Linked DNA regions of Homo sapiens: region 1 is linked to region 2. Evidence: fine-mapped expression QTL. A gene starts in region 2. The other region holds a variant in brackets. All regions are shown on one strand. Distances are between the middles of the regions. Region 1 has its middle 10 kb from the start of RNF7. Region 2 holds the start of GRK7 (G protein-coupled receptor kinase 7).

What was found. PIP is the estimated chance that this variant, and not a neighbour inherited with it, causes the effect.
Region 1: its variant is fine-mapped to the expression of GRK7 in whole blood (TOPMed, PIP above 0.99).

What each region holds. Positions count from the first base shown.
Region 1 is chr3:141,721,863-141,734,167 of GRCh38, forward strand. No RefSeq gene overlaps it. Among named protein-coding and RNA genes, the nearest start is that of RNF7, 10 kb to the right of the region's middle. The variant T/A (reference allele first, on the strand shown) is at 5,715.
Region 2 is chr3:141,756,568-141,768,872 of GRCh38, forward strand. It overlaps GRK7 (G protein-coupled receptor kinase 7), which reads left to right and starts at 6,841. Exons shown (of 6, transcript NM_139209.3): 1 at 6,841-9,171. RefSeq lists a silencer at 6,086-6,260.

The DNA.
Region 1 (12,305 bases), 35 kb before region 2:
ACCATTTCCTCAGAATGGTCTTAGAGGCATAGCATAATCATAGATTGCATTTTTCTTTTAATGCTCTAGAGTTTTAGATAGAAGAATTATAATGATATTACTGTATATTGTATTGACATTTTTAAAACTAAAACTCCTACATTTTTAACAGCCAATCAAGTGATTCCATGATGTTTAAGTTATCCCTTTATTTTAGAGAAACAGAATATCTACTTTCTATTCCATTAGAGTTGAATTCAATTTCAGCAGAATTACTCTGTTAAATTTAGTTCAAATATAGCTTTAAGCTTGATAAACTGAAGGCAGGTTAATGCTTTCATTTGTTTTTCCTGGCACCGTAGTAACTTTTTCATTGTACATTGAGGGAGAAGATGTTACAAGTCTGCAGGCAGTCTCATGACCATGACTATAGTGAATGCTAATGACAATCAGTCTCAGATGACTTGATGGAAAGTGATTATCTCTGAGTATGTATTTGGAGCTGGAAAACATCATGCTTTGCTTAGTAAATGTTTTAATTTGCATAAATGAGAAGATAATTATGAAATATCCACCTGAAAATACAAATACGCATTTAGAAGGCATTAAAAAGTAATTTATAGTTCAAGAAATCTTTTTTTCAAATATAGTAATATGTATCATGAGTAGCCTTAATGCATCCCTCTCTTGAGCTGAAATAATTATGGTGTTTCTGATGGAATACTTCAATTGGATTGTTAGTTTGAACACCAAGAAGATTCCTCAAAACAGGGTTAACTGGTTGGGTTTTATAGGAAAAATCTCTTCCCATTCAGCCCTAATGGCATCATTTTAAACATTAAAAGCAATTAATAGTATTACTGATTATAGAGCTAATGTTCTTCAATTGATTGTTTCTTAACATTTGCAAGTTAACAAGCTAATTTCTAATTCTAATTCTAATTCGTTCATGAAATCCAAATTAACAGCCTGAGGTCACTTACTTGGCTATCAAGGAGATCTTAATGACCTGCCTTTAATGATGGACGAGGCCCAGTGAAATCTTCCTCAGAAACATTAGCAAGCTCATTTCATTAAAAAAAAAATAGCTAGTGAAACAATAAGCTGTTATCCTGTCTTACTGCTTTTTCACTAATAAGAAAACAGAGTACTGAAGGAACATTTCATTTATTCATTCTTATTTCTTTCAATATATATTTGTTAAATGCCTATCATGTACCAGGCCCTGTTCTGGGCCTGGTAGGAGGAGAGTCATGAATTCCTGCCTTCATGAGGCATATATATGATTGTATATCTGATGGGGATCATACTTAGAGGAAAAATAAAGCAAATGAGGGGGTAAAGTGTGTGTCAGGGCATGGGGGTTGCCATCTTAGGGTAGCTAGGGAAGGCTTTGCTGAGAAGGGACACTTAAGTAAAGACCTAAAGTAGTGATGGAGCAGGCCATGTGAATATCTGAGAGATGAGCATTCTGGCTAGAAGGAACAGCAAGTGCCAAGGCCTTAAGGTAGGAGCCTCCTGGTGTGTTCAGTAAAGCAGCCAGCATGGCTGAATGGAGTGAGCTAGAATGGGAGAGTCAGAGGACAAACAATTTGAGATGCAAGTATGCAGAGCAGAAAGCCTTCTAGACCCTTGTGAGGACTTTTGGGTGTAACTGTTGACAAGGAAAGGCTTTTGAGAATGATAAACCTAGAAGTAACCTGATGTAACCCACATTTTAACAGGATTGCTTCAGCTCTATGTTAAAAATAGACTATAGGGGAGGCAAGGGCAGAACAAGGATTCTAGTTAGGGAGTTTTCTCTGGGAAAACTACACAGAGCCTTTCAGCAGACCCAGAACACCCAGCAAGGTGGAAAATGTGGGTTGGGGAGAAGCTACAAAGATGAGAATTAAGGAAAGTTGTACATATTGAGCAGTTGAAACTCAGTCCTTACTACCACCCTAGGCTTGTCTGCCCTGCTTCCAGAAGGCTGACAGCCATGTAGAAGATTGGGGTATTACTTGAGAAATTGAATAGCCCTAGAAAAAGAAATTCTAGATGCTGACAGCTGGCCATCTCCTCACCATTCAAAGAAGCCTAGCAGGTCAGCAAGCCCTGAACATACATGACAGCTGCCCATCAGCCTTTGTATGTCTTATGCTTCATTGTGAACAAGATACCTGAGAACCTCCAGACACTTGAGGCAAGTCTCCAACACGAGAGACCAACTCTGAAACAGAGGGAATGAAGGAACCCTGAAGATATAGAAACAATGCAGAAAACTAAAGAAAAACCAAAAAAAAGCTGTAACATTATAGCATTCTGAATGGAAGAAAGGATAAGGCATCCATAAAAAGGGAATGGGGTACTATGAAAAAAGAACAATTAGAAAATAAGAAAAAGTTTTTGGACAGTAAAAAAGATAGACAAAATAAAATATTCTGGGGGGAAAAAAAGGTAGACAGATAAAATCAAGAGAGTCAGCCCTCTGCTCCTCCAGTTTGAGAGACAGCTGCATTTTCTCATGCAGCACCAGCTGCGCCCCTCAGACACCAGGGTGAAGGTGAAGGCCAGAATAAACAGATGTATCCACAGTGGGCCTTGGTCACCAGGGCTGCTTTTAACTCTGGCAAAGTGGATGTTGTCACCATCAATGACCCCTTCATTGACCACAACTACATGGCCTACATGTTCTAGTATGAGCATGTTCCAGTATGAACAAGGCCAAGTTCCACATAACCTCCAAGGAGTAAGACCCCTGAACCACCAGTCAGAGCAAAGAGGATGAGAGAGGCCCTCAGCTGCTGGGGAGTCCCTGCTGCACTCAGTCCCCCACCACACTGAGAATCCCCCCTGAAGAGGGAAGGTCTGGGGAACTCTGCTTTGTTGTGTACCATCAACAAAGTCACCTGTACTCAGCCCCCACCCCACCCCCCAAAAAAGAAAGAAAGCTTCAGAAGTGAAACAAAAGATAAGGAGATGAAAAATTGGTGAGAAAGTATAAGAGACAGAGGATCAACCTACGAACATCAGTGTCTAACTAAGAGTTTTCAGAAAGAGAAAGCAGAGAAAAGTGAAGACAGGGAATTATCAAAGGAATAAATAAAGAACTTTCCCAGAGCCAAGGAACATAAATCTGCACGTTGAAAGAGCCCATTGGGTGTCCAGCACAGGGAAATACAAAAAGTATATCATGATGGCATTCAGAGCACTAGGAATAAAAAGGGGATCCTAACAGCTAACTAAAAGAAAACAATTTGCATCCAAAGGACTGGGAATTAGAATGACATCAGACTTCGTAACTAGAAGCTAGGGGCAACAAAGTGCTACTGTGACAATTCTATGAGAAGTCTATACCTTCCCAACTTCTAACCATGTATGAGGCCAAAATAAAGATGTTTTCAACATGCAAACATTCCAAACATTTGCCTCCTCTGAGTCTATTCTTAAGAAACTTCCAAAGAACATGCTTGAGCAAAATGAGAAAATAAACCAGGAAGACAAGCCAGGCGCAGTGGCTCATGCCTGTAATCCCTGCACTTTGGGAGGCTGAGGCAGGCAGATCACTTGAGGTCAGGAGTTCGAGACCAGCCTGGCCAACTTGGCGAAACCCCCCTCTCTATTAAAAATACAAAATTAGCCAGGCATGGTGGTAAACACCTGTAAGCCCAGCTACTCAGGAGGCTGAGGCAGGAGAATCACTTGAACCGAGGAGGCGGAGGTTGCAATGGGCCGAGATCGCACCACTGCACTCCAGCCTGGGCAATAGAATGAGACTGTCTCAAAAAAATAAATAAATAAAAATAAAATAAAATAAACCACAAAAACAAAGAACGCCAAGTTCAGAAATCGGAAGGCCCAATATAGGACAGTAAAAAAGGGAGTCCCAGATGATGGTTGAGGTAAATCCAAATTGGAGCAGAAAAGTAGAAGACTTTGTAAAGGAGAAAGACTTGGTTAAAAACTGAACTTATAGAGCATGTGAAATACTTAAGTATTTTGTCAACTGAGGTCAGGAGTTCAAGACCAGCCTGGCCAACATGATGAAACCCGCATCTCTACTAAAAATACAAAAATAAAAAATAGATACTTAGGTGTTTTGAAAGAAATATTGATAAGTATATTTGAAATGACAGAAACCTGTGGGAAAATATTTAGAATAAGTACACAGAAAACTCTGCAAATGACAAAACAGGCAATTATTAACTTAGACAAAAGACAGATATACAATGAAATATGTACAAAAATATACCAATGAATACACCAAGTGTTGATTTAACTAAAAATTGTGATATATCTTTATTGGGAGGCTTGGTGAGAGGAAGTTACAAAAGTCAATATGTAAAATTTTAAATGGAAATATCAAGAAATAATATAATAAGCACTTTGTTTAAAATCAGGCAGTAAATATCATGAAAAACTGCTGAATAAGTTGAAAGTGGCTGCCTCTGCAGAAGAGAACTTGGGGCCACGTGCAGTGGCCTACACCTGTAATCCCAGCACTTTGGGAGGCCAAGGTGGGAGGATCACTTGAGCCCAGGAGTTCGATACCAGCCTGGGCAACCTAGGGAGACCCCATCTCTACAAGAAGAAGAACAAGAGGAAGAGGAAGAAGAAGAAGAAGAAGAAGAAGAGAGGGAGGGGGAGGGGAGGGGAGGGGGAGGGGGAAAGAAGGAAGGAAGGAAAGAGAAGAGAGAATGAGAGAGAGAAAGAAAGAAAGGAAGGAGGGAGGGAAGGAAGGAAGGAGGGAAGGAAGGAAAGAAGAAGAAAGAAAGAAAAAAAAGAAAGAAAAGAAAAGAAGAAAAGAAAAGAAAAGAAAGAAAATAAATTGGTCTGTTGCCCAGGCTGGAGTCCAGTGGCATGATCTTAGCTCACTGTATCCTTGAACTTCTGGGCTCAAGTGATCGTCCTACCTCAGCCTCCCAAGTAGTTAGGACTACAGGCATGTGCCACCATGCCTGGCTAATTTTAAATTTTTTGTAGAGGTTAGGTCTTGCCATTTTTCCCAGGCTGGTCTTGAACTCCTGAAACCCAAAGTGCTAGGATTGCAGGCATAAGCCACTAGCCACTGCACCCAGCCAAAAATATTTTTAAAGAGAGAATTGAAAAGTGCCTAGCTTTCTCACCATGTAATTTGTTGTTATATAACTCCAGGTCAATACCTAATGCTGGCTTAAATCATCTTAGTTTCCTCAAAAGAAGAGGAAGTCTCAAACACTTGGGATATGCTTCATTGAAGAATGAGTAGAATTTTATAAGTGGAAAATAAGTAGAAAGGATGACCGAAAGTGTGGCATCCAGGAAACATAACAGTCTTTTGTGAGCTTAGGCGACACATGAATCCTCTGAGGTCTCAGCTGGTCTCCATTCCACACTCCTGGCCCCATTTCAAATGGTCTGTAGCATATGAAACACCTCACAGCCTGCGCCGTGCATCCCACACTCCCTCCTTGCCTCAGTGGTCAAGACTTTGACCTTTGTTTTCCTACTGAAGACTTTGCCTTCCCCTGCTTTGGACCTGTCCTCTATATTTCTAACTCCGAGCTTTGTTTTTCTCCTTGGCCAGGATTTATACCTGTTTCCGATTAAATACTGCATCATATAGAGATAGTGTTTGGCTACAGGTAACAGAACCAGCTACAGTGCCCTACACAGGTGGAAGACGACTGGGCAGGTACAGCTACTGCACCACATCATCAACGTCCCAGATTCCTTCTCTCCTTCTCCACCATCACCTCAGCAAGTGGCCCTTA[T/A]CCTCATGGCTGCAAGGTGGCTCCCACACCTGTGACCTCTCCTCTCCATTCCAGACCAGAAGAAGGAGAAGAAAGGACAAGGAGGAAGTGCTAGTATCTGATTTCTGGCTCATTCTTTTTTTTTTTTTTTTTTTTTTTTGAGACAGTTTCGTTCTTGTTGCCCAAGCTGGAGTGCAATGGTGTGATCTTGGCTCACTGCAACCTCCGCCTCCTGGGTTCAAGCAATTCTCCTGCCTCCCAAATAGCTGGGATCACAGGCATGCACCACCATGCCTGGCTAATTTTGTATTTTTAGTAGAGACGGGGTTTCTCCACATTGGTGAGGCTGGTCTCAAACTCCCAACCACAGGTGATCCGCCCACCTCGGCCTCCCAAAGTGCTGGGATTACTGCGCCCGGCCTCAAGTTGTGACATTCTAAACCACATTGTCTTACACCTCCAGGTTCCTTTCCATATTCATCCACCTTGCCTTCCACTGCTCTTTCCTGTGCCCAGCCTGATTTGACCTCATACTTGTACAAGCATTTTCATACTTCAACCTCAATTTACCCTCTGGAGCTGAAATTCAGTACTATTTTCTAAAGTTCTTGTTTTTCCTCTCAACTGTATTTCTTGTTTTCCCTTCTGCTTTTGGCCTCTCCCTGGAGAAGCCTGGCCTCCAGAAACTGTAGTGTTAGGCACCTCCGGCCTTATAAGCAGGACCTAGCTGTATGGCTAAATGAGAAGCAGGAAGGAGGAGAAGGGAGAGTTCCATGGGAAAGAATATGGAGGAGGGGTTGACACAGGCTCTGTAATAACACATTAGGGATTTGAGTCTTTATTTTATAGGAAAATCAGTGAGAACTCTGGGTTTCAAGTGATACAAAACCGATTCAAACTGACTTAAGTACAAAAGCAAATCTGTTGACTCCTGTAAGTCCAGGGTGGTTCTAGCTTAAAGTCCAGCTGAAATCAAGGGTTCACATAACGCCGCCCACCTCCATCTCCTGGGAGTTCTGCTGCTGTGTTGACTTTACTCTCAGGCAGGCTCTTTCCCACATGGGGGCAAGTTGAGCAGCATTAGCCAGAGGGTTACATTCTGCCTGGTTAATAATCTCAAGAAGGAGCTCTTCTTTGGACTTTCACTGGAGGACCATGAGTCACATGCACACCTGTTAACCAATCACTGTGCCAGGGAGATGAAATACACTAGACATCCCTGGGCTACGTGCATACCCTGGAGGGCAGGGGAGTGGAACCCTAAAACAAACTCAAAGTGCTGTTGCAGAAAGAAGCTGAAATGGAAGCTGGGTAGGCGGAAACAAGAGATGTCTACTAAAGAAAGAGGGCCAGTAATGGTATTAGAGCTGGTAATGAGAAGATCAGAATGTTGCTTTCAGATGATTAATCTGGAAGCAGGGTCCAGGATGGGCTTGGGGTTGGGGAAGTTTGGGATTAGGAAAACTGGTTAGGAGGCTACTCTATCATCCAGGTAAAAGACATGACAGTGAGAATGGGAAAGACAGGACAAGTGTAAGAAGTTACTTCAGAGGTAAATTAATTGTCAGCATCACTCGCACCAAGAAGGTATAAGGAAGAGGTATGAGGTCAGAGGAAAGTCACTCGGCTAATAAGAATGTGGGAGAATGCCTCTCTCAGAAGCCTAAGACCCACTCCCTCTAATGTAGTTGTGAGATATCCTACCTATTTATGATTATGTTCTTTCCCCGTGCAGGTAAACTACCGGTCTTAAAAATTACAGTCACTCCCCAGATCTCTTCAGATACCTTCAGATCAATTTGGAAAAATAGCAAGAAGTCTAACACTATGCATAAAAAGAAGAAAAAGGTAAGTTCTTGGACGTCTGTGTCAGTGAGGAGCAGCCACCAGGGAGTGCTGTGTGGAGCCTGGGCCCTTGGGGCAGACAGCACCATCAGCTGCAGGTTTTGCATTTGATTATATGAGAATTTAGGTTCTAGGTCACGCTCCCCTAAACCATCATTCCAATCTGATGGATGATGATTGAACCAAGAGACAAGTAAGTAAGAGAACAACAGTTTCCTCAAAGATTGGCACAGACTGGGCCTCCCCTCTTTAATTCCCACCCCTACCCAAATCCTAGTTGCTGCTAGCCTATTGTGGATCTGAAAAGATAAATTTACTTTTAAATTTACCTAAACTCTTTATGAAGGCTGTGCTACCTCTTAGGAGGTAATGCTTTATATATGTTTATTCTCTACTGTAAGAAGTTGAACTCCCTTTTTTCTATAATTTATGATTGCCTGTTTATTATTTCACAGACTAAAAACTGAATATAGGTGCTATATTTCCATATGGATGTCATCTATTTCCATGGCCAAGCAGATACACCCGGATAGATATTGCTTATTCTATAGTAATATTTTTCACTGTAACCAAGTCCCTTTGAAGTTCTCAAATTTGATGATTATTGTATGAAAGTTTAAAGTCATGTGATAATCCTGTCTTGTGATGATCCCATCACACTTGTCATTTTCTAAAATGTGGGTTTCACAAGTAGGCCTTAGTAAAAAAAGACGCAATTCTCTGAGGCTTCATCTCTCCTGCATATGAAATTTATAAGTTGAAGGAAATCATACTTTTATCTAAAAAAGAAAGAATCCTCTTTCATAAATATACCTATAGTTGGGAACAATAAGAATGCTTGGAAATAATAACCACTTCCTAAAAGACACCATCCCTAAAAATGAGGATCCTCCCTAAATGAGGAAACTTTTTTTTTTTTAAGACAGGGTCTTGCTCTGTTGCCCAGGCTGGAGTGCAGTGGCGCAGTCTTGGCTCACTGCAACCTCTGCCTCCTAGGTTCAAGTGATTCTCCTGCCTCAGCCTTCTGAGTAGCTGGGATTATAGGCGCGCACCACCATGCCCAGCTGATTTTTTGTATTATTAGTAGAGACAGGGTTTCACCATGTTGGCCAGGCTGGTGTCGAACTCCTGACCTCAGGTGATCCACCTGCCTTGGCCTCCCAAAGTGCTGGGATTACAGGCGTGAGCCACAGCTCCCAGCCAAATGAGGAAACTTTTAATTCCTCTGCCCCACCCTGAAGATGCCACATAGCCCCGTGAGAAATGGAAGAGGTGTGGTTGATTGATATACAGATGACAGTGGGTGAGTTGAGTTTTATATGCCACAACAATTATGGTGCAGGATGAAGAGCATGGCCTAGGCAGTTAGATGAACCAGAAGTCTCTATGGAGGAACTGCCGCTTTCCAGGTACTGAGCCTGGGCAAGTCAGTTCACCTCATGCTCCTCAGTTTCCTCTTATGTAAGACATAGTTAAGAGTAGCAGGGCTGGGTGCAATGGCTCATGCCTGTAATCCCAGCAATTTGGGAGGCTGAGACAAAAGGATCGCTTGAAGCCAGGACTTCAAGACCAGCCTGAGCAACATAGTGAGACCCCCTATCTCTACAAAAAATTTAAAAATTAGCCAGCTGTGGTGGCATGTGCCCGTAGGCCTCGCTATTTGAGAGGCTGAGGCAGGAGGATTGCTTAAGCCCAGGAGGATAACACTTCAGTGAGCTATAATTGCACCACTGCACTCCAGTCTGGGTGAGGAAGTGAGACCCTATCTCAAAAAAAAAAAAAAAAAGAGTAGCGCCTATCTCAATTGGTGAGCATTGAATGAGACCACACATGTCAAGCATTTTAGAACAATGAGAACAATGCCTTGTTCATATTATACACTCAAAAATAAATATGAGTGGCTCTTATTATTGCTGCTGTTATTGTGGATGTTAGAATTGAGTGGTGCCAGTTATTTCATCTATGACAACCACACAAGAAACATAGGAAAGAAATGAAAAAAAGAAGACTGAAGACCTCTTCACTTTGAAGTAAAAATAAAAAACGAAAACTTCATTCATTCTATCTACAAATTTAACAAGTGCTAGCAAGTTTCTGGAATCAAACTAACTGTAGGGTAAGAATGGTATAGTAAATTAGCTCCACTCTCCAGGGTCTTAGGATCTAGCTAAGAAGACAAGATCTTCGGCCAGGCACGGTGGCTCACGCCTGTAATCCCAGCATTTTGGGAGGCCGAGGCGGGTGGATCACCTGAGGTCAAGAGTTCAACACCATCCTGGCCAACATGGTGAATCCCTGTCCCTACTAATAATACAAAAATTAGCCAGGCGTGGTGGCACATGCCTGTAATACCAGCTACTCGGGAGGCTTAGGCAGGAGAATCACTTGAACCCGGGAGGCGGAAGTTGCAGTGAGCTGAGATCACGCCATTGCACTCCAGCCTGGGTGACTATAGCAAAACTCCGTCTCCAAAAAAAAAAAAAAAAAAGACAAGATTTTCTTGCATTAAAAGTGAACAACAATAAAGTATATGACTTGGAAAAATATGTGTCATTAAGCAGGATAAGAAAGGCCATAGAGTAACAAGATCAATGTAACAAATTTACCAGAACTGATGTATCCAATATGTGAGAGCTCCTGAGAACTGTTCCTGCTTAAAAGAAATGAAAATAGACTGGGTGGGCACCGTGGCTCACGCCTGTAATCCCAGCACTTTGGGAGGCCGAGGTGGGCCGATCACGAGGTCAGGAGATCGAGACCATCTTGGCCAACATGGTGAAACCCCATCTCTACTAAAAATACAAAAACTAGCTGGTCGTGGTGGCCCATGCCTGTAATCTCAGCTACTCAGGAGGCTGAGGCAGGAGAACAGCTTGAACCAGGGAGTTGGAAGTTGCAGTGAGCTGAGATCATGCCACTGCACTCCAGCCTGGCAAAAGAGTGAGACTCCGTCAAAAAAAAAAAAAAAAATGAAAATAAAAGTCAAAAAGACCTTTTTTGAAATTTGCCACACGTATCCACTGGGTAGGAGTGTAAAATCAGAATACCCCTTTAGCGGGTCTTTTGGCAGTGTTTATTAAAATGAAAAATACATAGCTTTTGACTCGGCCATTCTACTTTTAGAAATTTGTTTACTGTCACATGTGTGCAAGGAAATATGTATGAGGATGTTCACTGCAGCACTCTTTATTTTACGTGGGAAATAACTAAATTTTTCTCAAAGAGTTTCAGGGGAATAAATCACAGTAAATGTGTGTGGTAGAATACTATGCAGTCATTGAAAGAATAATGTGGATACATAAGTGCTTATATGGAAAAGTATCCAAGTAACACCATTTTTAAAAACAGGTGAGAGAATAGTATATGTGAAAAATTCATACAAAAATGAATTGACATAGTATAATCCAGCAATTTCACTTGTGTGTATACATCTAAAAGAATTGAATGTAGCGTCATTAAGAGATATTTGAACACCATGTTCAAAGCAGCATCATTTACAATAAATCAAAGGTGGAAGTAACCCAAATGTCCATGGAGAGATGACTGGATAAATTAAATGTGATATATACATAAAATGGAATATTACTCGGCCTTAAAAACGAAGGAAATTCTGACACATGCTACGACATGGATAAACCTTTAAGGATATTATGCTAAGTGAATAAGTCAGTCACAAAAAGACAAATACTGCATGCCTCCACTTAGATACTTACAGTAGTCAAAATCAGAGACAGAAAGTAGAATGGTGGTTGGGAGTACGTGTGAGGAGGGAGTTATTGTTTAATAGGTACAGAGTTTCAGTTTTGCAAGATGAAAAAGTTCTGGAGATTGTTTGCACAACACTGTGAACATACTAAACACTCCTGAACTGTACACTTAAAATGGTTAAGATGGTAAGTGTTACGCAAATTTTACCACAATTTAAAAAAATTTTAAATTGATGCATTGTGTGTCTGCTTGTGCATATACAGGAATTTCTGGAGAGTCTATTAATGGTACTTGGGTTTTTATTGTATTCCTGTTTCACTGTTTTTATCATTTGTGAGCTGTCAATTTTTAAAAACTTAAAATTGTTCAATAAATTATGATGAGCTTGTTAAACATCTGTAACAGCGCCCTTTGCTTGCTGTGTGACCTGGTGCCAAAAGTGTAGAAGAAGCACAGTAAATGCTGTGATTTCCTGGGAGGACATGAATATGTGGTGGCAAAGAGTGGCCAGTGAGAACAGAAAGATGAGTACATTTTTTCTAAGCACAGAGGGCAATCCAGCTGAAGAAGGTAGGGGAAGTTCTATCCAATTTCAGAGATGTTAACATGTGAGGAAAAGACCATCCATGGTACACTTGGATGACTGTGCAGACCAGTCTCACGAGGATCCTGCAGAGGGGTGCCGGGGATGGCCTTGACAGGTAGGTTGGGGCCATATTGTGGTGGGACTTAAATGAACAATCAGGACATTTAGATTTTGTTCTGATGATAATGTGGAGCTTTGGAACATTTTGAGCAGGAGAGTGTCAGGAGGTAGGAAAATTAACCAGGCATGTTAGATTGAATGGCAGTTAGACTGGGGAGGAAAGGCAGGGAAGAAGTCAATACACTGTAATCCAGAAGCAGGGTGATGAGGTTAAGCTCCACAATAGGAAATGGAAAGTTTGGTTGATTCTAGAAATTTCTAAAGAAAGAATGAACAGATAATTACGTATGAAGGGCGAGGAAGGGAAAGAGTCAACAGTGACCGTGGTTTCAGACCAGGACAGTTATACCTAC
Region 2 (12,305 bases):
TCTTGATCTGAGTGATGATTACCTGAAAGTATACATTTTATAAAACTCATTAACTGCACATGTAGGATGTATACATTTTACTCTATGTAAAACCTGAATTTTTTTTAAAAAAGAAAGAGATGGCTATTATTATTGAAGACCATAACCAACACCCTTTTACATTTGCTACTAAATGGAAAATAAAAGAAAATGCATTAATGGTGTTCCATTTGTCTTATTGTTCAACTCTTCAAGAAATCATTCAAATCAAAATAATTGTTTTTCTCATCTTGTTCTGGTCCCCTGTGGAGGTAACCTGAGAAAGCTCCTTGGAGTTCATTAGAAGGGCCACACTTTCAAGAAGTTTCTCAAAACTCAGAAGAAAAAAGTAATGGAAGAAGTGATTTTTTTAAGGGAAAATGTTTTATTAATTCCATCTCTCTTCTAGAATATTTTTCAGGGTTTTAAATGTGCAAAATCTTGGAGCTACCCCCAATTATAAGACGAAAATTTTAGTGTAGCCTGAAATTCCTCACTGAACTCTGAACTCCCACTTTTCTGACAATACGCTTAGATCTTCTTCTTTTTTTTTTTTTTTTTCTTTTTTTTTTTTTTATTATACTTTAAGTTTTAGGGTACATGTGCACATTGCGCAGGTTAGTTACATATGTATACATGTGCCATGCTGGTGCGCTGCACCCACTAACTCGTCATGTAGCCTTAGGTATATCTATCTCCCAATGCTATCCCTCCCCGCTCCCCCCACCCCACCACAGTCCCCAGAGTGTGATATTCCCCTTCATGTGTCCATGTGATCTCATTGTTCAATTCCCACCTATGAGTGAGAATATGCGGTGTTTGGTTTTTTGTTCTTGCGATAGTTTACTGAGAATGATGATTTCCAATTTCATCCATGTCCCTACAAAGGACATGAACTCATCATTTTTTATGGCTGCATAGTATTCCATGGTGTATATGTGCCACATTTTCTTAATCCAGTCTATCATTGTTGGACATTTGGGTTGGTTCCAAGTCTTTGCTATTGTGAATAATGCCGCAATAAACATACGTGTGCATGTGTCTTTATAGCAGCATGATTTATAGTCATTTGGGTGTATACCCAGTAATGGGATGGCTGGGTCAAATGGTATTTCTAGTTCTAGATCCCTGAGGAATCGCCACACTGACTTCCACAATGGTTGAACTAGTTTACAGTCCCACCAACAGTGTAAAAGTGTTCCTATTTCTCCACATCCTCTCCAGCACCTGTTGTTTCCTGACTTTTTAATGATTGCCATTCTAACTGGTGTGAGATGATATCTCATAGTGGTTTTGATTTGCATTTCTCTGATGGCCAGTGATGATGAGCATTTTTTCATGTGTTTTTTGGCTGCATAAATGTCTTCTTTTGAGAAGTGTCTGTTCATATCCTTCGCCCACTTTTTGATGGGGTTGTTTGTTTTTTTCTTGTAAATTTGTTTGAGTTCATTGTAGATTCTGGATATTAGCCCTTTGTCAGATGAGTAGGTTGCGAAAATTTTCTCCCATGTTGTAGGTTGCCTGTTCACTCTGATAGTAGTTTCTTTTGCTGTGCAGAAGCTCTTTAGTTTAATTAGATCCCATTTGTCAATTTTGGCTTTTGTTGCCATTGCTTTTGGTGTTTTGGACATGAAGTCCTTGCCCATGCCTATGTCCTGAATGGTAATGCCTAGGTTTTCTTCTAGGGTTTTTATGGTTTTAGGTCTAACGTTTAAATCTTTAATCCATCTTGAATTGATTTTTGTATAAGGTGTAAGGAAGGGATCCAGTTTCAGCTTTCTACATATGGCTAGCCAGTTTTCCCAGCACCATTTATTAAATAGGGAATCCTTTCCCCATTGCTTGTTTTTCTCAGGTTTGTCAAAGTTCAGATAGTTGTAGGTATGCGGCGTTATTTCTGAGGGCTCTGTTCTGTTCCATTGATCTATATCTCTGTTTTGGTACCAGTACCATGCTGTTTTGGTTACTGTAGCCTTGTAGTATAGTTTGAAGTCAGGTAGTGTGATGCCTCCAGCTTTGTTCTTTTGGCTTAGGATTGACTTGGCGATGCGGGCTCTTTTTTGGTTCCATATGAACTTTAAAGTAGTTTTTTCCAATTCTGTGAAGAAAGTCATTGGTAGCTTGATGGGGATGGCATTGAATCTGTAAATTACCTTGGGCAGTATGGCCATTTTCACGATATTGATTCTTCCAACCCATGAGCATGGAATGTTCTTCCATTTGTTTGTATCCTCTTTTATTTCCTTGAGCAGTGGTTTGTAATTCTCCTTGAAGAGGTCCTTCACATCCCTTGTAAGTTGGATTCCTAAGTATTTTATTCTCTTTGAAGCAATTGTGAATGGGAGTTCACTCATGATTTGGCTCTCTGTTTGTCTGTTGTTGGTGTATAAGAATGCTTGTGATTTTTGTACATTGATTTTGTATCCTGAGACTTTGCTGAAGTTGCTTATCAGCTTAAGGAGATTTTGGGCTGAGACAATGGGGTTTTCTAGATAAACAATCATGTCGTCTGCAAACAGGGACAATTTGACTTCCTCTTTTCCTAACTGAATACCCTTTATTTCCTTCTCCTGCCTGATTGCCCTGGCCAGAACTTCCAACACTATGTTGAATAGGAGCGGTGAGAGAGGGCATCCCTGTCTTGTGCCAGTTTTCAAAGGGAATGCTTCCAGTTTTTGCCCATTCAGTATGATATTGGCTGTGGGTCTGTCATAGACAGCTCTTATTATTTTGAAATACGTCCCATCAATACCTAATTTATTGAGAGTTTTTAGCATGAAGGGTTGTTGAATTTTGTCAAAGGCTTTTTCTGCATCTATTGAGATAATCATGTGGTTTTTGTCTTTGGCTCTGTTTATATGCTGGATTACATTTATTGATTTGCGTATATTGAACCATCCTTGCATCCCAGGGATGAAGCCCACTTGATCATGGTGGATAAGCTTTTTGATGTGCTGCTGGATTTGGTTTGCCAGTATTTTATTGAGGATTTTTGCATCAATGTTCATCAAGGATATTGGTCTAAAATTCTCTTTTTTGGTTGTGTCTCTGCCCGGCTTTGGTATCAGAATGATGCTGGCCTCATAAAATGAGTTAGGGAGGGTTCCCTCTTTTTCTATTGATTGGAATAGTTTCAGAAGGAATGGTACCAGTTCCTCCTTGTACCTCTGGTAGAATTCGGCTGTGAATCCATCTGGTCCTGGACTCTTTTTGGTTGGTAAACTATTGATTATTGCCCCAATTTCAGCTCCTGTTATTGGTCTATTCAGAGATTCAACTTCTTCCTGGTTTAGTCTTGGGAGAGTGTATGTGTCGAGGAATGTATCCATTTCTTCTAGATTTTCTAGTTTATTTGCGTAGAGGTGTTTGTAGTATTCTCTGATGGTAGTTTGTATTTCTGTGGGATCAGTGGTGATATCCCCTTTATCATTTTTTATTGTGTCTATTTGATTCTTCTCTCTTTTTTTCTTTATTAGTCTTGCTAGCGGTCTATCAATTTTGTTGATCCTTTCAAAAAACCAGCTCCTGGATTCATTGATTTTTTGAAGGGTTATTTCTTGCCTTCTGCTAGCTTTTGAATGTGTTTGCTCTTGCTTTTCTAGTTCTTTTAATTGTGATGTTAGGGTGTCAATTTTGGATCTTTCCTGCTTTCTCTTGTGGGCATTTAGTGCTATAAATTTCCCTCTACACACTGCTTTGAATGCGTCCCAGAGATTCTGGTATGTTGTGTCTTTGTTCTCGTTGGTTTCAAAGAACATCTTTATTTCTGCCTTCATTTCGTTATGTACCCAGTAGTCATTCAGGAGCCGGTTGTTCAGTTTCCATGTAGTTGAGCGGCTTTGAGTGAGATTCTTAATCCTGAGTTCTAGTTTGATTGCACTGTGGTCTGAGAGATAGTTTGTTATAATTTCTGTTCTTTTACATTTGCTGAGGAGAGCTTTACTTCCAACTATGTGGTCAATTTTGGAATAGGTGTGGTGTGGTGCTGAAAAAAATGTATATTCTGTTGATTTGGGGTGGAGAGTTCTGTAGATGTCTATCAGGTCTGCTTGGTACAGAGCTGAGTTCAATTCCTGGGTATCCTTGTTGACTTTCTGTCTCGTTGATCTGTCTAATGTTGACAGTGGGGTGTTAAAGTCTCCCATTATTAATGTGTGGCAGTCTAAGTCTCTTTGTAGGTCACTCAGGACTTGCTTTATGAATCTGGGTGCTCCTGTATTGGGTGCATATATATTTAGGATAGTTAGCTCCTCTTGTTGAATTGATCCCTTTACCATTATGTAATGGCCTTCTTTGTCTCTTTTGATCTTTGTTGGTTTAAAGTCTGTTTTATCAGAGACTAGGATTGCAACCCCTGCCTTTTTTTGTTTTCCATTTGCTTGGTAGATCTTCCTCCATCCTTTTATTTTGAGCCTATGTGTGTCTCTGCATGTGAGATGGGTTTCCTGAATACAGCACACTGATGGGTCTTGACTCTTTATCCAACTTGCCAGTCTGTGTCTTTTAATTGGAGCATTTAGTCCATTTACATTTAAAGTTAATATTGTTATGTGTGAATTTGATCCTGTCATTATGATGTTAGCTGGTGATTTTGCTCGTTAGTTGATGCAGTTTCTTCCTAGTCTCGATGGTCTTTACATTTTGGCATGATTTTGCAGCGGCTGGTACCGGTTGTTCCTTTCCATGTTTAGCGCTTCCTTCAGGAGCTCTTTTAGGGCAGGCCTGGTGGTGACAAAATCTCTCAGCATTTGCTTGTCTGTAAAGTATTTTATTTCTCCTTCACTTATGAAGCTTAGTTTGGCTGGATATGAAATTCTGGGTTGAAAATTCTTTTCTTTAAGAATGTTGAATATTGGCCCCCACTCTCTTCTGGCTTGTAGGGTTTCTGCCGAGAGATCCACTGTTAGTCTGATGGGCTTCCCTTTGAGGGTAACCCGACCTTTCTCTCTGGCTGCCCTTAACATTTTTTCCTTCATTTCAACTTTGGTGAATCTGACAATTATGTGTCTTGGAGTTGCTCTTCTCGAGGAGTATCTTTGTGGTGTTCTCTGTATTTCCTGAATCTGAACGTTGGCCTGCCTTGCTAGACTGGGGAAGTTCTCCTGGATAATATCCTGTAGAGTGTTTTCCAACTTGGTTCCATTCTCCGCATCACTTTCAGGTACACCAATCAGACGTAGATTTGGTCTTTTCACATAGTCCCATATTTCTTGGAGGCTTTGCTCATTTCTTTTTATTCTTTTTTCTCTAACCTTCCCTTCTCGCTTCATTTCATTCATTTCATCTTCCATTGCTGATACCCTTTCTTCCAGTTGATCGCATTGGCTCCTGAGGCTTCTGCATTCTTCACGTAGTTCTCGAGCCTTGGTTTTCAGCTCCATCAGCTCCTTTAAGCACTTCTCTGTATTGGTTATTCTAGTTATACATTCTTCTAAATTTTTTTCAAAGTTTTCAACTTCTTTGCCTTTGGTTTGAATGTCCTCCCGTAGCTCAGAGTAATTTGATTGTCTGAAGCCTTCTTCTCTCAACTCGTCAAAGTCATTCTCCATCCAGCTTTGTTCCATTGCTGGTGAGGAACTGCGTTCCTTTGGAGGAGGAGAGGCGCTCTGCGTTTTAGAGTTTCCAGTTTTTCTGTTCTGTTTTATCCCCATCTTTGTGGTTTTATCTACTTTTGGTCTTGATGATGGTGATGTACAGATGGGTTTTCGGTGTGGATGTCCTTTCTGTTTGTTAGTTTTCCTTCTAACAGACAGGACCCTCAGCTGCAGGTCTGTTGGAATACCCTGCCGTGTGAGGTGTCAGTGTGCCCCTGCTGGGGGGTGCCTCCCAGTTAGGCTGCTCGGGGGTCAGGGGTCAGGGACCCACTTGAGGAGGCAGTCTGCCCGTTCTCAGATCTCCAGCTGCCTGCTGGGAGAACCACTGCTCTCTTCAAAGCTGTCAGACAGGGACATTTAAGTCTGCAGAGGTTACTGCTGTCTTTTTGTTTGTCTGTGCCCTGCCCCCAGAGCTGGAGCCTACGGAGGCAGGCAGGCCTCCTTGAGCTGTGGTGGGCTCCACCCAGTTGGAGCTTCCCGGCTGCTTTGTTTACCTAAGCAAGCCTGGGCAATGGCGGGCGCCCCTCCCCCAGCCTCGCTGCCGCCTTGCAGTTTGATCTCAGACTGCTGTGCTAGCAATCAGCGAGATTCCGTGGGGAGATTCCGTGGGGTAGGACCCTCCGAGCCAGGTGAGGGATATAATCTCGTGGTGTGCCGTTCTTTAAGCCGGTCTGAAAAGCGCAATATTCGGGTGGGAGTGACCCGATTTTCCAGGTGCGTCCGTCACTCCTTTCTTTGACTTGGAAAGGGAACTCCCTGACCCCTTGCGCTTCCCAGGTGAGGCAATGCCTCGCCCTGCTTCGGCTCGCGCCCGGTGCGCGCACCCACTGGCCTGCGCCCACTGTCTGGCACTCCCTAGTGAGATGAACCCAGTACCTCAGATGGAAATGCAGAAATCACCCGTCTTCTGTGTCGCTCACGCTGGGAGCTGTAGACCGGAGCTGTTCCTATTCGGCCATCTTGGCTCCTCCTCCAGATCTTCTTAAGGATGAAAAATATGGGCTTGGATTCTTCCCATACCTCATGCTTCAAATAGCCGTTGATGACCCTGAAGCCATAGTGCTGTGTTTCGGTCAAACAACAGCCCAGAACTGAAGTTTTGTGAGGGCATAAGGCACCTAATAAAGCATAGGAGCTCTGGAGTCCTCCCAACTTCACCATTCCTTGCTGTTAGGTCCTTAAGGTGAATGCAAAGTGAAAGGAGCAACTTTCAAAGTTCTTGCTGTAGCTTCCACCCTTAGCTCTCAAACCCACTAACTAACCCAGCAAAGTCTGGGGGGCCTCAGATCAGCCCAACCCTCTGCCAGCTCCACCTTCACAGACGAGGAACCAGGGCCCCAGTGCTGTGCCTAAGACCTCCTTCAACTTAGCAGTAGCCCAGTGGAAGCTGCAGGATCCCGGATCCAGATCCAGTGTGCGTGGCAAGGCCAGCACCCCTCCCTGCCCCCAACACTGTCCACCACCATCTGCTTTGAGTCCAGCAATCTCATCCTGCCCTTTATCCTAGTTAGATACCTCAACACAAGAAACCCAGTTTTCCAGCTCAACTCACATTCTCCTAACTCTAATTCCAAGTAGTTCTTTACATTCCCTTTTATTCCTGCAACTCCCACCCCTTCCTGACTTCTGAAACTTGTCCTCTGTGCCCTCCAATATTTACACCAACAAAATTTCCTCCGTCCTCTTCCCTTCCCTACAAATTCCCTCCATTTTGTTTTCCCTAAAACCTGGTTCTCCCCCAAGGACACTGTTTCTTCTGCAACACTTCTGCTCCCCTCATCCAACTGGACCTGGCAACATGCAAGACGTCTTCATTTCTCTTCATTGCTGCTCTCCTTCCTTCCCTAAAAACACCCAGCTTTGAGTCTCATGTGACTGGACTCCAGCAGTCACTGTGTCTTCTTGCAGCCCCACAAATCACTCGCTGAGTTGCTAGCTCCCAGCTCTCCATCACTACTCTTGATAATTCTTGGTGATTTCAATACCCACATGGCTGATGCTTCTCATACCCTGGCCTCTCCATCCCCTGATCTCATCTCTTCCAGTGATGTGCTCTCCACCCCTGCCTTGACTGCCACTCACTCCAGTGGTCACACCCTTAAGCAAGACTCCTCAAGAGTAGCTTACACTAGCTGCCTCCAATTCATTGATTCTCTGTTGAACTGACTCTCATAAGGTTTTCATCCCACTACTTCATAGAAACTGCTCTTGTCAAGCATCTGCGTGACCTCCAAGTTGTTAAATTCACTGACCAATTCTCAGTCCTTATCCCACTGACCTCTCAGCAGCATTTGCCGTAGTAATCACTGTTTTCTCCTTGACACTCTTTCTTCCCTTGATATCCAGGATCCACATTCTGTCTCTCCTAATACCCCACTGCCCTCACCTCCTCAAACTCTAGGGCTCAGTCCTTAGATTTCTCTGCCCTCACCCCAGAGTGATCACACCCAGTCCTGTGGCTCTAAAGGCCATTTATATCTGGGGTGACTCCCAGTGAGTATCTCCAGCCCAGCCCTCTCCTGTGGGTTCCAGACCCATAGATCTTGTAGACTACTCAAGACCTCAGTTTGGCTGTCTCCCTGGCAGGTCAAATTTAACAGGTACAAGACTGAGCTCTTGATCTTCCCCACACCCTGCTCCTCCAGAGGATTTCCCACCCTGTTTACCAGAAATTCATCCTTCCAGTTACTCAGGCCCAAAACCTTGGAATCACCCTTGCTCCTTTTCTGTCACACCCACAATCCATCCATAAGCAAACTATCTTCCCCCTCCCCTGATTTCTCACCAGGGTTACTGCAGCAGCCTCCAGACTGGTTTTTCTGTTTTAACCCTTGCCCCTTCTGTCTGTGATCCTGTTAAAATGTCCATCTGATTGTTGAAAACTTCCAGTGGCTTTCCATCTCACTCAGAAGGAAAACCTAAGTTCTTGCAGTGATCAGTACTGCCTCACTGGTCTGCTCTGTTTCCTCTCTGAGGACATTTCCTGCTGCGGGCCCCTCACTCTGGGCCACCCACACTGACTTTCTTGCTGTTTCTCAAGCTCACCAGGATTTGAGCCAGCTGTTCCTTCTCCCTGAAGTGCTCTACCCTCAGGCAGTCACATGGCTCACGCCCTTACCTTCAGGAGGTCTTGACTCTCATCATTTTCTCAATTCAGTCTTGCCTGACCACCCTATTTAAAAGTGAAGCCTTCTCCCTGGTGTATCTCAGCACTTCCCTTCTCCTTCCCTGCTTGATTTTTCTTCACAGCACTTACCACCATCTGTGGTGGGTTGGAAAACATGGCCACAGTATTTTACAGCTACTCCTATCAACCTGGGCTAGGCTTGTGACCAGTAGAATGTGGCAGAAGTTAACGGTGTATCAGCTCCAGAGCCTGGAACTGAAGAGATCTTGCAGCTTCTGCCTTCACCCTTTTGGAAAACTGCTCTGAGGCCATCATGCTTTGAGGAAGCCCAGGAGGAAACACTGCAGAGAGGCTCAACCACCCCAGCTCTCCCAGCTGAGCTCAGCCACCCACCGATCCCCCAGCTGAATGCAACCATAAGAGTGAGTCCAGGTGAGACCAGCAAAGAGCTGCCCAATCAAAGCAAATCTGTATATTTGTGGGATAAGTGCATAGAATGAATAGACAAATGAAACATAGGCCAGAGCTTTGTGTGGATTTTAGTTAATATGACTTAGTACTCAGTACTACTTACGAATTCTCTTTTATACATCAAAGTCTTCACTTGCAATGTGCTATCAGGTAAGAGGTGTTTAAGTGTCACCAGCTGAATCTGGTGTTCCATTTTCTTTACCATAGCGTATATCAAGGGTCAGGCCCACACTGTATATGGAAATAAGGCTTTCATCTCAGTTGCAAATGACTCTAATGTTACTATTGTTTATAAAAGTTGGGGTGTTTAAATATTTTAAAGTATTCTTTAACATAACTCCCTCTACCCCACCAGTGGACATTTAACATTTACACGCTTAACTTAATTTTTTCTTTTTTTTTTTGAGATGGAGTCTCACTCTGTCGTCCAGGCTGGAGTGCAGTGGCGCGATCTCAGCTCACAGCAAGCTCTGCCTCACGGGTTCACGCCATTCTCCTGCCTCAGCCTCCCGAGTAGCTGGGACTACAGGCACCCGCCACCACGCCCAGCTAGTTTTTTGTATTTTTAGTAGAGATAGGGTTTCACCGTGTTAGCCAGGATGGTCTCGATCTCCTGACCTCGTGATCCACCCGCCTCGGCCTCCCAAAGTGTTGGGATTACAGGCGTGAGCCAACGCACCTAGCCAGTTTTTTCTTATAACTTCCTTATTCTCTCCACTCTCGATTACTTTTATTCGCCACCAAATGTGAAAAAAAAAAGTCTTTAAAGCAGACTCACCGAAATTTCTAATAAATACTTACTACTTCTTCATTCCAGAATACAAAGTCTTTTATGTCCTACTAAAAATAACTTTGACTTTTATGCCCTTGTTTCATTCATTATTATAACCGTAACACTTTTTTTCAAATAATTCCCACATATTCGCCACATATCAAATCTATGTTTTGTGGAATTTCTTTTGCTTTTTGTTTGCTAACATTGTATTGTTTGGTCTTCTCTAATAATCTATGTCTTCTAATAAAATCTCGTACTTTCCAGAGAGTTGCTTAGCAGATTTTTAAAATCTTATTGTGTGAACACATACAGTTCATTTGCATATCTGCCATAATTCATTTCCAAATGGAATCTCTATCAGGAAGTATTTTCTATTTCCTTCAGATATACCAATTACTTCATTTTCTCTCTTAGCTACTGTGACTCCTTGTTTAAGAAGAATATCCTCTGTTATGAGAATGCAGTCATTATTAAAACAATTAGAGTCTTGTTTAGAGAGGAAGATGTTTATGTTATGCCAGATTATAGCCTAAGATTCAATATTTATGGACTTAATTTATTATAGAAATGAGGAGTTTTAAGCAAGCATACAGATTCTTTCACCCCTATGAAAGCATGTGCAACTTCTCCTATCTTAAGTAGCCTCAAAAGCAAAAATTTTCACCATCTATTCTTGGTATGACATGTAAGGAAGGTCAGGCTTCCTGTTGATAAAAAGATTTCTCTTTCAGATACACAATGATTGTTTCATTATCAATTGGAACAGAGCTGAACTGAATGCTTGGTTTTATACTATGATACCATGCAAGCCTTATAACTAAAAATCTGTTGGTTTTGTGTTTTGTTTTTTGTTTTTTTTTTTTGAGACAGGGTCTCCTTCGCACTGTCACCCAGGCTGGAGTGCAGTAGCGTGATCTCAGCTCACTCCAGCCTCCAGCCCCCAGCTCAACCAATCCTCCTACCTCAGCCTCCTGATTAGCTGGGACTATAGGCATGTGCCACCATGCCCAGATTTTTTTTGTATTTTTAGTAGAGACGGGGTTTTGCTGTGTTGCCCAGACTAGTCTCAAACTCCTGACCTCAGGCGATCCATCCACCTTGGCCTCCCAAAGTACTGGGATTACAGGCGTGAGCCACCATGCCCAGCAGAAAAGTCTGCTATTTTAAAGGGAAACAGAGGACAAGAATCATTTGTAAATATCTCAGCTTTCTCCTTTGTGTGTCACACTAGATTCTTTTACCCCCAAGCTTCTCTATGCCACAGGGACAATGCTAAGTGAAAAGTACCCTGGAATGGACTATGAGACCCTAAGTTCCTAGTCTAAACCCAGCATTTAAGTTTTTTCTGGTCTGTTTTCTTCATGTACAGGAAGAGCTTAGACTAGGTACACACTATGATAACATGCATTCTATTTAACTCTGTGATTATTGGATAATTGGAGTTAATAGGAAAGTGAGTGGTTTTCAACTGACATTTCCTGAAAGTTAGAAAATGAATTGTTCATTCCTCTATGTTCCCCTTGGATTTGGTGCCTACCTGTGGAGCGGCCTCTAACCACACTGTGTCACGGTTATCATGGTAAATGGGGCCACCACACATAGACCCCTTGCAACAGACCCACACTCCTGTGCTGTCTGGAGAGCTGCCCTTCGTCCTAAGGCCAATCCTTCCCCTTATATTTTAACCTCGCCCTCTAACCTGGATCCTTCCTGTCAGCCTTTTTTTTTTTTTTTTGAGACGGAGTCTCGCTCTCTTCCCCAGGAGTGCAGTGGTGCAATCTTGGCTCACTGCAGACTCCGCCTCAGCCTCCGCCTCCCGGGTTCCAGTGATTCTCCAGCCTCAGCCTCCCAGGTAGCTGGGATTACAGGCACCCACCACCACACCTGGCTAATTTTTTTGTATTTTTAGTAGAGATGGGGTTTCACCATGTTGGCCGGGCTGGTCTCGAACTCCTGACCTCAGGTGATCCACCCGCCTTGGCCTCCCAAAATGCTAGGATTACAGGCATGAGCCACCGCCCCTGGTCCTTGTTAGCTTTTAACAAGCACAAGACACTACCATTAATTTTTTCTCCCATCTCTCGCAACCCCTCCAGCTCCCCATCATATGTCTCTCCCTTTTCATGGCCAAAGTTCTGTGGCTGCAACCTTCACTTCTCCACCTTCCTTCCCTCCTCAATCCTCTCCAGTCAGGCTGAGAGTCCTACTCCAGGAGCCAGTGGTTTCCATCCATCCTCCTTTCTTTCTCCTCATCATCTCAGCCTCTCAGCAGCATTCGATGCAGTTGGCCACTCTCTACTTGGCTTTTGCGGCACCACAC